Regions from separate parts of the Homo sapiens genome. Here regions 1 and 3 are each linked to region 2. The links come from fine-mapping of genetic effects on plasma protein levels. Region 2 holds a variant in brackets. A gene starts in each other region. All regions are shown on their forward strands. Region 1 holds the start of RETN (resistin). Region 2 overlaps CDK6 (cyclin dependent kinase 6). Region 3 holds the start of CLEC4D (C-type lectin domain family 4 member D).

Evidence for each region. PIP is the posterior inclusion probability: the model's chance that the variant is causal. Protein levels are from antibody-based Olink assays in UK Biobank. Linkage for the fine-mapping came from a reference panel and not from the study's own genotypes, which makes the PIPs less certain.
Region 1: RETN starts here. The variant in region 2 is fine-mapped to the plasma level of the RETN protein (UK Biobank, PIP above 0.99).
Region 3: it holds the start of CLEC4D, and the variant in region 2 is fine-mapped to the plasma level of the CLEC4D protein (UK Biobank, PIP above 0.99).

What each region holds. Positions count from the first base shown.
Region 1 is chr19:7,666,399-7,671,626 of GRCh38, forward strand. RETN (resistin) reads left to right here and starts at 2,651. Exons shown (of 4, transcript NM_020415.4): 1 at 2,651-2,723; 2 at 2,919-3,046; 3 at 3,423-3,500; 4 at 3,821-4,057. The coding sequence starts at 2,929. The coding sequence ends at 3,951. It also overlaps the pseudogene RPS27AP19.
Region 2 is chr7:92,776,370-92,781,597 of GRCh38, forward strand. The region is part of intron 2 of CDK6 (cyclin dependent kinase 6); the gene reads right to left. Among named protein-coding and RNA genes, the nearest start is that of CDK6-AS1, 57 kb to the right of the region's middle. The variant C/T (reference allele first, on the strand shown) is at 2,687.
Region 3 is chr12:8,509,275-8,514,499 of GRCh38, forward strand. CLEC4D (C-type lectin domain family 4 member D) reads left to right here and starts at 4,229. Exons shown (of 6, transcript NM_080387.5): 1 at 4,229-4,486. The coding sequence starts at 4,459. It also overlaps the pseudogene SUPT4H1P2.

The sequences.
Region 1 (5,228 bases), not on the chromosome of region 2:
GTTTATGGCAAGCCACTTTGACAGACATTATTGTGGCAAATGTTGTCTGACTTACTGCTTCAACAAACCAGAAGACAAATAACTGTATGAATTAACAAAAGACGGCCAGGCGCAGTGGCTTACACCTGTAATCCCAGCACTTTGGGAGGCCGAGACGGGCGGATCACAAGGTCAGGAGATCGAGACCATCCTGGCTAACATGGTGAAACCCCGTCTCTACTAAAAATACAAAAAAATTAGCTGGGCATGGTGGCGGGCGCCTATAGTCCCAGCTACTCGGGAGGCTGAGGCAGGAGAATGGAGTGAACCCGGGAGGCGGAGCTTGCAGTGAGCCGAGATCGTGCCACTGCACTCCAGCCAGGGCAACAGAGTGAGACTCCATCTCAAAAAAGAAAGAAAACCCACAAAAGACGTGAACTAACAAAAACAAACAAACAAACAAAAAAACAAAACAAAAGCTGGAAGCAACCCAAGTGTCCATCGATGGATGAAGGAATAAACACAACGTGGTTCATCCACACAAGGGAATGTGATACAGCCATGGAAAGGAAAACAGTTCTGACTCAGGCTACAGCAGGGATGAACCTTGGGGATATTATGCTCAGTGAAATAAGCAGATACAAAAGGACAAACACTGTGTGATTCCACTCCTAGGAGGTCCCTAGAGTCATCAGATCCATAGAGGCAGAAAGCAAGATGGAGGGTGCCAGGGGCTGGGGAGAGGGATAGGGAGTGAGTGTTTCATGGGGACAGAGTTTCAGTTTGGAAAGAGGAGAAAGTTCTGGAGATGGACGGCAGTGGTGGCTACATAACAACATGAATGTGCTTATTGCCACAGAATTGTGCTCTGAAAAATGGTTAAAATAGGCTGGGCATGGTGGCTCACACCTGTAATCCCGGCACTTTGGGAGGCTGAGGCGGGTGGATCACTTGAGGTCAGGAATTTGAGACCAGCCTGGCCAACATGGTGAAACCCCATCTCTACTAAAAATACAAAAAATTAGCCGGGCATGGTGGTGCACGCCTGTAATCCCAGCTACTCGGGAGGCTGAGGCAGGAGAATTGCTTGAACCCAGGAGGTGGAGGTTGCAGTGAGCCAAGATTGAGCCACTGTACTCCAGCCTGAGCAACTGAGTGAGACTCTGAAACAAAGAAACAAACAAAAGCAATGGTTAAAATGGAACAAGATGGTGCATACCTGTAGCTTCAGCTACTGGGGAGTCCAAGGTGGGAGGATTACTTGAAGCCAGGAGTCTGACACTAGCTTGGGCAACATAGCAAGACCCCGTCTCAAAAAAAAAAAAAAAAAGGCCGGGCACGGTGGTTCACGCCTGTAATCCCAGCACTTTGGGAGGCCAAGGCGGGCAGATCACAAGGTCAGGGGATCGAGACCATCCTGGCTAACACGGTGAAACTCCATCTCTACTAAAAAAAAAAAAATACAAAAAATTAGCTGGGCGTGGTGGCAGGCGCCTGTAGTCCCAGCTACTTGGGAGGCTGAAGCAGGAGAATGGCGTGAACCCAGGAGGCGGAGCTTGTAGTGAGCCGAGATCGCGCCACTGCACTCCAGCCTGGGCGACAGAGCAAGATTCCGTCTCAAAAAAGAAAAAAGTAAGTTATAATGGTAAGTTGTATGTTATATGTATTTTACCACAAAAAGGCCCGTTGTACTGGAAACAAAGAACAAATAAAAATGTAATAACCATTCCAAGCTCATGGGTGGTCCAAGAAGAAACATGAGCTGGACCTTGGCCCATGAGCAATGGCTTTCCAACTTCTGTTGCAGGTGATGCCATTGATGGAATAAACCATGATTTTTCTTTCTTCTTTTTGAGATGGAGTCTTGCTATGGTGCCCAAGCTAGTCATCCAGGATGGAGTGCAGGGGCACGATCTCAGTGCACTGCAACCTCCACATCCCGGGTTCAAGTGATTCTCCCACCTCAGCCTCCCAAGTAGCTGGGATTACAGGCACACGCCACCACGCCCAGTTAATTTTTGTATGTCTAATGGAGACAGGGTTTCATCATGTTGGCCAGGTTGGTCTCAAGCTCCTGACCTCAAGTGATCCGCCCGCCTTGGCCTCCCAAAGTGCTGGGATTACAGGCGTGAGCCACCGGCCATAAACCATGATTTTATTTACCAGTTCTATTGCTCATGGGCATTTGGGTATGAATGTGGTATGTCATTCTCACCCAGAGACATAATTATTATTACTATTTTAGAGAAGTGGTCTTGCTCTGTTGCCCAGACTGGAGTGCAGTGCTGTGATCATAAGTCACTGTAGCTTCGAACTCCCGGGCTCAAGCAATTCTCTCACGTCAGCCTCCTTAGTAGCTGGGACTACAAGTGCTTGTCCGCACCATGCCTAGCAAGAGGCATTAATTTTGTCATGTTTGCATCAGCCACCCTTGCATGCAAAACTCTGCTTGTCTACCTGTTCCTCAGACCACAGCCCCTGGCATTATCCCTGGGGCACCACCTCCTGACCAGTCTCTGGACATGAAGACGGAGGCCCTGTTGGAAGTGGGAAGGCTCCCTTCCTCCTCCAGCCCTTACTGTCTGCTCAGGGGCTTCCTCTTGGCCCCGGATGTGGGACCGGAGGGTTGGGGGCCCAGGGACTTATTAGCCAAGCCAGGAAGCCCCACCCCAAGAGGCCTCAAAGAAAGAGCTGCGGTGCAGGAATTCGTGTGCCGGATTTGGTTAGCTGAGCCCACCGAGAGGGTAAGTGACAGCTGCTCCTGCGCTTGCCATGGCACCAGCGGGGAGGCTGGGGTCAAGGCTGAGCCTCCATCCCTGTCCCCCACATGGGGGGACAGGGGTCCAGGTCCAGGGGCAGATCCTACTCCCTCCATGGGCCGGATCTTCCCCACAGGGCAGGGCTGATCCAGCTGTGGGTCTCTTGGTTCCCTCTTTCAGCGCCTGCAGGATGAAAGCTCTCTGTCTCCTCCTCCTCCCTGTCCTGGGGCTGTTGGTGTCTAGCAAGACCCTGTGCTCCATGGAAGAAGCCATCAATGAGAGGATCCAGGAGGTCGCCGGCTCCCTAAGTGAGGACCCCCCACTTGGGCAAGCTCCCCAAGGGTCTCAGAGACCTCACTGATCCCTGGCACAGACCTGACTCCAACCCAGCCCCAGCGCTCACCAAATCTCATCCTCAAATCCAACCAGATCATAAATTCAACCCCAACTCCACTCCCAACCCCTCCGACTGTCCCCACCTTATCCACGGCTCCAAACCCAATCCCCGCTCTCACTCCAAACCTTCCCTTACTCCAAAACACCCAACTCAAGACAGGGTCCTGGAGGCCAGTGAGCTCCTATGCCCACAGGGACCTAGCTCCAAACCAACAGGGCTAGGGGAGGATGGGGGAGGGACCGTTTGGTCTCACAGCTCCCCCTGTCTCCTTTCCTCCTGCCCCCCAGTATTTAGGGCAATAAGCAGCATTGGCCTGGAGTGCCAGAGCGTCACCTCCAGGGGGGACCTGGCTACTTGCCCCCGAGGTGAGTGCAGGAGACTGTTGTCCAGGCGCCCATTTCTGTTCCAAGTCCCCTGGGAATGCCCCCTCCCCGCCACGTTCCCCGTGTCCAGCCTCTACTCCCCTAGGATCTTGGTCCTGACTCCCAGCCTTCTCCGCCCACCATCTGGACACTGGTGTCCACCCTCACTCCCTGCCTCCAGTGCCCATTCAGTGGTTGGAGCCTCCAGCCGTCCCCGTCCCCACCCCCGCCCCCCCAACCCCCCTCCGCGCTCCCCACCCCCCTCCCGCTCCCACCCTCAGCCTCCCAGCTCAGAGTCCACGCTCCTGTGTTCCGGGCTGCAGGCTTCGCCGTCACCGGCTGCACTTGTGGCTCCGCCTGTGGCTCGTGGGATGTGCGCGCCGAGACCACATGTCACTGCCAGTGCGCGGGCATGGACTGGACCGGAGCGCGCTGCTGTCGTGTGCAGCCCTGAGGTCGCGCGCAGCGCGTGCACAGCGCGGGCGGAGGCGGCTCCAGGTCCGGAGGGGTTGCGGGGGAGCTGGAAATAAACCTGGAGATGATGATGATGATGATGATGATGATGATGGAGCGGATCTGAGCCCTGCGTGGTTTCTTTAGTAGGCCCGGAGGGACTGATCTAGCGTCTCCAAGAGAGTGGGGCGCGTAGCTGCTGGAGGGGGCGGGGACACCGCGACTTTCTACTGCCCCATCGCCCTTCCTCCTATGGGGTCTCCAACTGCTTCCTCCGAAAATAGGGCCTGAACTTCCTCTAGTGACGTCCCCACCCAAGGCTCATGGCTGCCTTCAAGAGGTGACGTCTCATCTTTGAGGCTACCTTGACGCTCACCCTGGGGTCTCCGACCTCCCCAGGAAGTGGCTGGGTCCTTTTCCCCCAGTCCTCATAATGAGGCTTCATCGAGGACCTGGGTCAGTCTGGGCAGTGGACGGGACCCTCCAGGGCCCCAAGACTCCAGGAGCCCCAGGTCAGGGTGGAACCCTGAATCATGTCTCAGCCCAGAGCTGGAACCTGTACCCCTCACTTCCTACCTGCAAGGAGGAATCCCCAAGGCACAGGCAAAGTTGGGTTACGGAGAGTCAGGGACGCCTACCTGACGTCACGCATCATCACAAGCTCACGTTTTCACACAGGCAAGTGCAGTTGTGAGTAGTTAGTTACAACCAGATACACGCAGGGTGCTTACCCCTTCCTGGATACTAGATTATGAAAACACAGAGCAGGGGACTTGTCTGCTCCTAGATCCCCCCCAGGGTTTCGTTTCTTCCCTTCCCTTCCCCTCCCCTCCCCTCCCCTCCCCTCCCCTCCCCTCCTCTCCCCTCTTCTCTTTTCTTTCTTTCTTTCTTTTTTTTTTTTTGAGACAGGGTCTCGCTCTGTTGCCCAGGCTGGAGTGCAGTGGTGCAATCTCGGCTCACCGCAACCTCTGCCTCCTGGGTTCAAGCGATTCTCCTGCCTCAGCCTCCCACGTAGCTGGGACTACAGGCGCTCGCCACCATACCTGGCTAATTTTTGTATTTTTAGTAGAGAAGGAGTTTCACCATGTTGGCTAGGTTGGTCTTGAGCTCCTGGCCTCAAGCGATTCACCCGCCTCAGCCTCCCAAAGTGCTGGGATTACATGCATGAGCCACCGCGCCTGGCCTATTTTTTAATTTTTATTTTCGAGACAAGGTCTTACTCTGGCGCCCAGGCTGGAGTGCAGTGGCACAATCTCGGCTCACTGCAACCTCTGCCTC
Region 2 (5,228 bases):
ATGTGTGCATGTGTCTTTACAGTAGAATGATTTATAATCCTTTGGGTATATACTCAGTAATGGGATCACTGGATCAAATGGTATTTCTGGTTCTAGATCCTTAAGGAATTGCCACACTGTCTTCCACAATGGTTGAACTAATTTACACTCCCACCAACAGTGTAAAAGCATTCCTGTTTCTCCACATCCTCTCCAGCATCTGTTGTTTCCTGACTTTTTAATGATTGCCATTCTAACTGGTGTGAGATGGCATCTCATTGTGGTTTTGATTTGCATTTCTCTAATGAACAGTGATGATGAGCTTTTTTTTCATATGTTTGTTGGCCTCATAAATGTCTTCTTTTGAGAAAATGTCTGTTCATATCCTTTGTCCACTTTTTGATGGGGTTGTTTTTTTCTTGTAAATTTGTTTTAAGTTCCCTGTAGATTCTGGATATTAGCCCTTTGTCAGATGGATAGATTGCAAAAATTTTCTCCCATTCTGTAGGTTGCCCGTTCACTGATGATAGTTTCTTTTGCTGTGCAGAAGCTCTTTAATTTTATTCCATTTGTCAATTTTGGCTTTTGTTGCCGTTGCTTTTGGTGTTTTAGTCATGAAGTCTTTGCCCATGCTTGTGTCCTGAATGGTACTGCCTAAGTTTTTTTCTAGGGTTTTTATGGTTTTAGGTCTTATGTTTAAGTCTTTAATCCAGCTTGAATTACTTTTTGTATAAGGTATAAGGAAGGGGTCCAGTTTCAGTTTTCTGCATATGGCTAGCCAGTTTTCCCAACATCATTTATTAAATAGGGTATCATTTCCCCATTTCTTGTTTTTGTCAGGTTTGTCAAAGATCAGATGGTTGTAGATATGTGTCATTCTTTCTTGTTTTTTTTTCCTTTTTGTGAAGGAGTTTCGCTCTTGTTGCCCAGGCTGGAGTGCAATGGCACATCTTGGCTCACCACAACCTCCGCCTCCCAGGTTCAAGCGATTCTCCTGCCTCAGCCAAGTACTACTCCCAACCCGAGTGGCTGGGATTACAGGCATGGGCCACCACGCCCAGCTAATTTTATATTTTTAGTAGAGACGGGGTTACTCCATGTTGGTCAGACTGGTCTCAAACTCCTGACCTTAGGTGACCTGCCCACCTCGGCCTCCTGAAGTGTTGGGATTACAGGTGTGAGCCACCGTGCCCAGCCATGTGGCATTATTTCTGAGGCCTCTGTTCTGTTCCATTGGTCTATATATTTGTTTTGGTACCAGTACCATGCTGTTTTGGTTACTGTAGCCTTGTAGTATAGTTTAAAGTCAGGTAGCATGATGCCTCCAGCTTTGTTCTTTTTGCTTAGGATTGTCTTGGCTATACAGACTCTTTTTTGGTTCCATATGAAATTTAAAGTAGTTTTTTCTAATTCTGTGAAGAAAGTCAATGGTAGCTGGATGGGGATAGCATTGAATATATAAATTACTTTAGGCAGTATGGCGATTTTCACAATATTGATTCTTTGTGTCCATGAGCATGGAATGTTTTTCCATTTGTTTATGTCCTCTCTTATTTCCTTGAGCACTGGTTTGTGGTTCTCCTTAAAGAGGTCCTTCACATCCCTTTTGGGTTGTATTCCTAGGACCTCTGTTAAACTTTTAATGCCTTGCTGGTTCACCATGTCATCCTTCTGCATTTCTGGGCTTTATGGACCCCACATTTGGACTTCTCTGTGAATCTATACTAAATTTTAAAGGAAACGAAAAAAAAAAACCAAAACCAAAAACAAAAAACACTTAACAAAAAAACCCCACCACTGTAATTAGGTTAAATCTGGCAGGTCAAAAAACAGAACACCAACAACTACACATGCTTCATAGCCAGATCCAAGCTTCTTTTTAATTATGGGCAGTTTGGGGTGAATTATACAACTCCATTAAAATTAACCAGAATCCATTGAAAATTTTTTCCTCACATTTATCTACTTCTAAACATTCTGGTTTTTAAGTTTTAATATCCATTCCTAAACTTAATATTTTCCCCTAATGTTACTTATTCTGGAAAATTATTCCAATAAAGTAAAAACTCTTAACAGATTTATTAAAGATAGTACCATAAATCATATTAAGTCTCACACTCTAAAAATATGATTGCTATCATGCATGGATTTAATATGTGGAAAATTTATCAAAACAGTTCTTTTGCCTTGATAATTCAAGATAACTACAACTATTCACAGGCTTTTTTAAGCCAGCTTATTGCTATTAAATCCACATACTTGGACAACTTCACTCTTTTCTTCCTATTGAAAAAGAAAATGGAGTTCCACAATCCCCAACTTTCTTTATATCTGTTGCTTGTATTTTTGTAATAAAATAAAAGAGCAGTGAACCAAAAATGGCATGTCCCTAAAGTCAAATACAAACACAGAGCTGTTTCATACTATGACCATTTCAGTTGTGTTTCTGAAACATTACTTTAAAAATATTTCCCATTATAATTAATATATTTAGTGAAAAAATTACATTGCTTACCACTACCTGGAATCAATAGTAATTTTAGTAACTCCAGTTCTTACTGCATTTATAGTTTATCATATATATATATATATATATATAAGATATTATAGTAATTTCCAAAAGAGAAAAAATTCTGACGGGGGCATAACTGGAGAATAAAGTGATCCTAAAATACTGCTGAAACAAAAAGTCATCTGCCCCCTGGAC[C/T]GTTGTCTTAGAAGTTACCTAACAACCCTGGCAGTATGCCCTGTTGCTTCATCTCACTGAAACCGTTTTCAAGCACTCTTTGCATGACACAATTTAAAAATAACATCTAACCCACCCAAGTTGCTTTCCTCAGAGTTATACTGCTCTCTTCAAAATATTAAGACTCACTGATGCCACCTGCAGCAACTGGACTCCAGGCCTCAGTTTCAATGGATGCTCAAGATACGAAAGGTGAGCTCACTGAAGCCACTACTAATTGTCCTAAATGATAAACCTTGGAGAAAAAAGGACTCATTTCAATCGGTAGTTTTTAAAACATGGAATTTTAAAGAGATGTGTAATAGTCCATAGAGCAGAACATTTTCACATAAATTTTAATGTATATACTTGCATATTCTTAAAAAATGGTATTAGGTAGAAGTGACTCCTCCAGGTTCAAGGAAATAATCCTTTTTAATTTTTAAGGTGCCATTATTATTAACTTCATTCAGGAAATGGAGCATATTAGAGACTTCTCAGACATTCACAAAGGGCATCAAGGGACATCAGAGTCCTAAGGGTGCCTGTAGGATACTCTCTTTTTTGGCTCCAGTGCTGGCTAGCCATCCACATCCTACAGACCTAGTACTCCATGGAAGACATCTGGGGAAATATTGCTCTTCCCAAAACTATGAAATTTTGTCTGACTTAAATTATGTCTGATTAATGGTTAGTAAACATTGTACTAAAAATTAACAGTTATATTAGTCACAATGGGTAGGAAATGCATTTTGAATCAATGGTTGTAAACATTAATCTTAGAAATGCTAGACTATAATATTTATGATGCTTTTTTTTGTCTACAATGACTCCCTCTGGAATTGCCCCAAATCAAATAATAGTCACTTTGGTGGGCAATAAAGAGAAAACAGAAACTTTATTTTTATTCTTATTTTTCTTTTAAGATGGAGTCTCACTCTGTTGTCCAGGCTGGAGTGCAGTGGTGCAATCTTGGCTCACTGCAACCTCCTGGGTTCAAGTGATTCTCCTGCCTCAGCCTCCCGAGTAGCTGGGACTACAGGCATGCACCATCATGCCTGGCTAATTTTTGTATTTTTAGTAAGGATGGGTTTCACCATGTTGGCCAGGCTGGCCTCGAACTCCTGACCTCAAGTGATCCACCTGCCTTGGCCTCCCAAAGTGCTGGGATTACAGGCGTGAGCCACTGTGCCCGGCCAGAAACTTTAATATAACAAATGAGTTTCATATACAACAACTGAGCTAAGCATGAATTAAAATCCCTGGTATTTGGCTAGAGGTAAACAATCTGTAATGTATTTATATAAATCAATAAGGAATGGGGCTAGGCTACCTAGAACCCTTACACTTGCAAAACAAAAGAGCCAGACAGGTCTGAACACTTGAATGTAAAAACTGGAAAATAGGCTGGGCGCGGTGGCTCACACCTGTAATCCTAGCACTTTGGGAGCCCGAGGAGGGCGGCTCACGAGGTCAGGAGATCGAGACCAACCTGGCTAACACGGTGAAACCCCATCTCTATTAAAAATACAAAAAAATTAGCCGGGCGTGGTGGCAGGCGCCTGTAGTCCCAGCTACTTGGGAGGCTGAGGCAGGAGAATGGCGTGAACCTGAGAGGCAGAGCTTGCAGTGAGCCGAGACCGTGCCACTGCACTCCATCCAGCCTGGGCAATGAGCGAGACTCCATCTCAAAAAAAAAAAAAAAACAAAAAAACAAAAAACAACAACAACAACAAAAAAAACCAAAAAAACCCCAAAAAACTGGAAAATAGCTACAACTGCATGATTCCTTATATTGACCAATATTTTAAGACTTTCTAAAACCTTTTTTTAAAAATTTTTGCTAATCTGTAACCTGACAAAAATACCATTTCAAGAATTACATGACAGCAGTTCCATAAGAAAAATGTAATCACAATGTATTGAATATGAACAAAATATCTCAGATGACTTTTAAAGGAAAGGAAAATTACCATTAAATATTTATCCATTAGAGCTTAGCATAATGTGATCCAAGTGAATGTTCAAAAAGTCAAAGTGCAAACTGGTTATTGGCATTAACTAAGGCTATGCCTTCAGTTTAGCTGTGCAAAATGCAATCCAAAAAAGGCAGATAGGTCGTTATCATTTCACAATTAAGTTGGCCAAGCCCCTAACTCTCCCACAAAGTAAGTTCTCTTGCTGTCTCTATTGTCCTGACCCGCCAGCTGCAGGGCAGAGAACAAGGCTTGCAGTCCAGCACAGCACTCAGTTTTCCAGCTGTCCTAGTGATGTAATTATCTAATAACAAAATATCTCTCTGAATTAACTCTGCATCCTACCCATTGTAATTCTTAATGACTACTTCCTGTTCATGTTCTCAATTTAACTTGCTCTTCTGGAACTATTGCATAGGCAAGTTGCCTTCATCTAATGGATGGGATTACATCCAATAGGTTTGGGATTTCCAAAGATTACAATTTACAAAGGTCTCCCAAACAACATGCTTTGTAAACACAAGCCCTGCCTTTCTATTGTGGTTACA
Region 3 (5,225 bases), not on the chromosome of region 2:
TGATAGTCCTTAGGCTCTTCACCCTCTTCCCAGCCTGAAGGCAGTAGGGGCGGGGGCTATGGAAGTGGCAAAAAAAAAAACGGTGTTCCTGTTGTGTTACCTCTGCGAGCTCCATCCCATAGAAATGCAGAGCTGCTACCAGCCCAAGTCCTCAGGCGGGGGTGGAGTGGCTGTGCTGGGGGCCCAGGCCAGTGGGCTTTGCCTGGCAAGGTTTAGCGGAGGCCTGCAGTCTGTCTGCTCCTCAGCACCATGAATTCGACTCCATGCAGCTCTCCATGTAAGTGCAGGCCTGGTGGAGGACAGGACTCGGGGGGTTGTCAGGGGCATCCCCTGTGCCCAGGATTGTACGGGTTCATGGCAGAAGTGTGGGTCCCTAGGGACTGTCACTCACTCATCATTTCCTCGTTGTGGGGAGCCTCCCTTGGCTCCATGCCAATCCCGGGTGGGCAGCTGTCCTGTCTCACTCTTCTTTGCTCTCTGTGGGTTATGTTACTTCTGTGATGAATCCCAAAGTGTCCTCCTTCAAATTATGTGAATTTGTTCTTGCAGTCCTGTCAAATTAACCACTTTACCTTTTACCTGTGATAAAGATTGTGTCTTTACTACAGAATCTCTCTCTCCTTTTTTTTTTTCTTTTTTTTGCCTTAACAAGCCTGATTTCTATTATCTAGGAAGATGTTAGGATTTAATTAACAGCTCTGTCACGTCTTCTTCAACTCAAAAATAAAGGTTAATGGAGGTTTTGCTTATTGTTCATATTGTCTTTTTGTAATCTTAACTGTCTTGGACACAGCTTTTCATTCAGCTCTGAGAAGTTTCTAGAGTAGGGTTTCCCTCATATTTTTGAAATTATAGTCACTTTCTGAGAACAACAGAATGTACCAGACCTATTCTATTTTTTTCCTGTTCTAAGCAGGATTTATGTATTCTCTAGGAGTCCCAGGTCCTTTTGATAGAAATAAATATTACTTTAACCAAAAATCTAGTTTCCAGGGTTGCATATCCGAGTTTGTGGGTTAGTGCTATTGTTGCTATTGGAATACTTCTTGTAGTGACTGGCGGTGCCGGAAAATATATGGATTGCCAAATCTATAATTTTACCTCCTCCCATCCCCAATTTAACATAGTAAAGTAATATTTCACTGAAGATCACAGAATATATATACACACATATCATTAAAGTAATATTGTAGCTTAGGGAAGAGTTCAGGGAAAGGGCTATATTCTGGAAATTGTAGAGATCTTTCTTAAAGGATCTCTAAGCTGTTATGTACTTGTCTTAGTGAGCTTGGGCCACTATAACAGAATACCATAGACCGGTGGTATGAAAGAGAGACATTTATTTCTCACCGTTCTAATAGCTGGAAGTCTCAGATCAGAGTGCCAGCATGGCAGAAGTGTGGGTCCCTAGGGACTGTCACTCATCATTTCCCCATTGTGGGGAGCCTCCCTTGGCTCCATGGCAATCCTGGATGGGCAGCTGCTCTGTGTCGCTCTTCTTTGCTCTCTGTAGGTTATGTGGCTTCTGTGATGAATCCCAAAGTGTCCTCCTTCAGGTCATGTAAATTTGTTCTTGGAGTCCTGTCAAATTAACCACTTTACCAGTGAGGGCTTTCTACTAGCCTTGCAGATGACTGCCTTCTGGAGAACTCATCTCTCTTTTTTTTTCCTCTCTCTCTCTTTTTTTAAATTTTTTTTTAAATTTTTTTATTATACTTTAAGTTCTAGGGTACATGTGCACAACGTGCAGGTTTGTTACATATGTATACATGTGACATGTTGGTGTGCTGCACCCATTAACTCCTCATTCTCCCAGTGCTATCTCTCCTCCCTCCCCCCACCCCACAACAGGCCCCGGTGTGTGATGTTCCCCTTCCTGTGTCCAAGTGTTCTCACTGTTCAATTCCCACCTATGAGTGAGAACATGTGGTGTTTGGTTTTCTGTCCTTGTGATAGTTTGCTGAGAATGATGGTTTCCAGCTTCATCCATGTCCCTACAAAGGACATGAACTCATCATTTTTTATGGCTGCATAATTTTCACATAGCTTCGTTTCTACAATCACAACATTCCTGAGGTAAACAGGCAAGGTGTAATCATTCTTTTTTTACAGAGGGAGAACAAGGAACTTAGGGAAATCAAAATGGGGACACTAACAGGATTTCTGTGGAAATTTAAGTAAATGAGAATTTGTAGTAAATTTTTTATCCTAAAACAAATAACTCACTTTGGCCGAAAAATGGGATGTTACCCAAGGTCCCCTACTGGGCCGGCGGAGAAAAGGACCTGCCTCCTACAGGGGCACAAACAAGGCAGACTAGGACCCAGCAGTCGGCCAAGGCCCAAGGGTCTCCAGTAAGGAAAATGTAAAATGTGAGTGTGTGAGACTGGCCTAAGATATAGGAAGAGCAGTAAAGAGAAGAAAACTGACGAGCAGAGGGGGAAAAGAATTATTAAACATGGTCAAGGAGCAAGGAGCACGACAAAGCCTCAGGATTTCTTCAAGGGATACTGCTGTGCCAGGTCTCAAGGGCAGAAGGATACAAGCACAAGACACCAGGGCCACCAAGCTGATGGGGTTACTGAGCCTCTGGACAGCACCTTCTGATAGGAAGCAAGGAAGCACACTACAAAGGCTGCAATCCTGGAGGCTGAGACAGTCAAGAGGGAGTGGAAGGGCCTCTGCTGCTCTGGGAAGGTATCTTATAGGGCAAATAAGCTCTTACTGTGTGCCTAAGAGAAAGGAAGAGGGAAGCGAGGCAGGTGTCATGGCCTTAAGAACTTTCTAGAGGTTTCTATTTATTGACATTTGACCTAGACCTCTTCATGAGCAAGGCGCAGCCTTGGGCTACAGGTAGGAAAGTCAGCATCCTACTCTCTCCTCAATTCCATCTGTTAATCCACCAACCCAAATCCCTCCCACCCCCACCTGAAGTCCAAATAAGGTAAAATGATAAAATGATGTGCTGTTCTCTCAACAGTTGGCTGAGTCTGAATTGGAGGGTAGGAAGCATTTGAAGCTCTGCCCATTTAGTTCCAGAACAAAAAATAAGCAGAGGCAGGAGGTGGAGAGCAAAGACGCTGGCAGCCCTGCGTCTGGTCTTTATAGCTGTGTCTTTGGATTTGTAGGCCACTCCTCAACTTTTCAGCTCCCGCACGATTCCTTAGGGCAAGCGACCAGTGGTTGACACCGCATATACACCTGGCTTAAAGTTATTGACTCGCTGCCAGTTGGAGACCCAGCTGTCCTCTGGACTCATCATCGCAATGATTCCATCAAAGGAGGAGCTGGTGCAGCCATATAGCATCTCTCAGTTACCCTTCATCTGTAGATATGCATCTCAATAGTCACAACCATCATATTCAAACTGGTCTATAGTACCTTGACCAGTGAACACAGCAAACAGGCCCACAGATGCCACAGGTCCTTCAGCACCGTCTCCAGGGCCATCTTCTCCAATGAGAAGAGCAACAGCAAGGAAGATGGCCACAGCCTGAGCACCCGCAGGAAGTAAACAGCTCGTTAGCCGGGTCTCTTCTTATAATTCCATCATGAGGACCCCATTCTCATGACCTCATATTAAACCTAATTACCTCCCAAACTTTTGACCTCCAAATGCCATTACGTTGGAGGGTAGTGCTTCCACCAATGAATTTTGAGGAGATACAGACATTCACTCCCTAACAGTGCTATAAATGAAGTCAGGGACCCTGATGGTGTCTTTATCACAGAATCTTACATTTTCTTTGTCTTTGCCTTAACACAACTCTTTTTGCTCACCTAGAAAGTTCTTGGGATTTAATTAACTGCTCTATCATCTCTTCCTCAACTCGAAAACAAAGGTTGCTGTGTCTTCACATGCCATGTACACACAAGGTATACTTTAAAAGTTTTTGTTCATTGTTCACATTGTCTTTTGCTCTCTTAGACTCAACTTTTTATTCAGTCCAGAGAACTTTTTAGTATAGAACTCACCCCAAGAATATAACTGCCTTTGAAAATATAATATTCACAAAAAGAATTTAAAAAGAGGGGACATTTACTAAATTTTTATTGGGCATAACAATTATTTCTTTTAGGGCGTTGCTAAATTTTTTGTCTAAATGAAAAAAAAAACAAATTGAGAAATTCCACATTTCACACTGATCTAGTGATCTCAACATACTTGTGGGTTTCTACTAACTGTTGTTTGGTATTGCTTTCTCAATTTCCTTTTTTTTTTTTTTTCGCCTCATCTCCCGGAATGTATCAAAGGAAACCCCTGTCTTTGAAAAAGACTTCTTTTGAGCTAACTTTCTTATACTGGTACCTTTCTAATCTCACTACAATATGTAACATTGGTGTTCGATCTCAAGTATTTCTGAATATATTCCCCTATCCACAGAAATATACTCTGGGGGAAAAAAAATAGAACAAATTCTTGCCGTCCTGACCATTGAACAAGAGACTAATTAGACAATGGGGCTAGAAAAACCTCAAAGTAAACGTGAGTACTTTCTCTCCTTTCCATTTCAAAGAAGCAGATGGAATTATACTAATTTAAAACATATGAATTGATGGTAGTTTTAAAGATTGTTGATGATGACGGGGAGAAGGAGGTGGAAGGAAATAAAAATGACGTTGGTGAAGAGGAAGGACATAGAGTCAAATAAGTTGGATAACAGAAACTTCTTTATAAAATGTATATTGGACCAAGAGGGGAGATAAAATATATAAAAGAGAAATAAGATGAAAAGAAAGAGAGTAATATGAGAAGATTCTTTTAAAGAAAAAAGAGAAAAGGAAGATGTAGAAAAAGCATTTAGGCTTATGCTGTATCAGAGGCTCTAACTGTCCCATTTTATGTTTGACTTAAGTGACACCAGTGGATTTGTATTGTGATAATATTAAATAATATTTTTGATAGATATATAGAACAAGTGTGGAAATGTTTAAATTAAAATTAAAGTTTTACTTTATCTCATCACCCTACCATGGCAAACTGTAATCACAGTGTGATCCTATTGAATTACCTTTTTAGGTAACAATATTTCTTAGAGATTTTTTGCATCAATATATACTGATTACATGCTTATTTAATTACTATACAGAATATCATTGTGTGAAGGGACCATAATTTAGAATTTCCACTATTGATAATATACATGTAAATATTAGATTACAGTATGTGTTTTCTATTTTGAGAAGTACTGCAATGAATATCTTTTAACATAAACAAGCTCAAT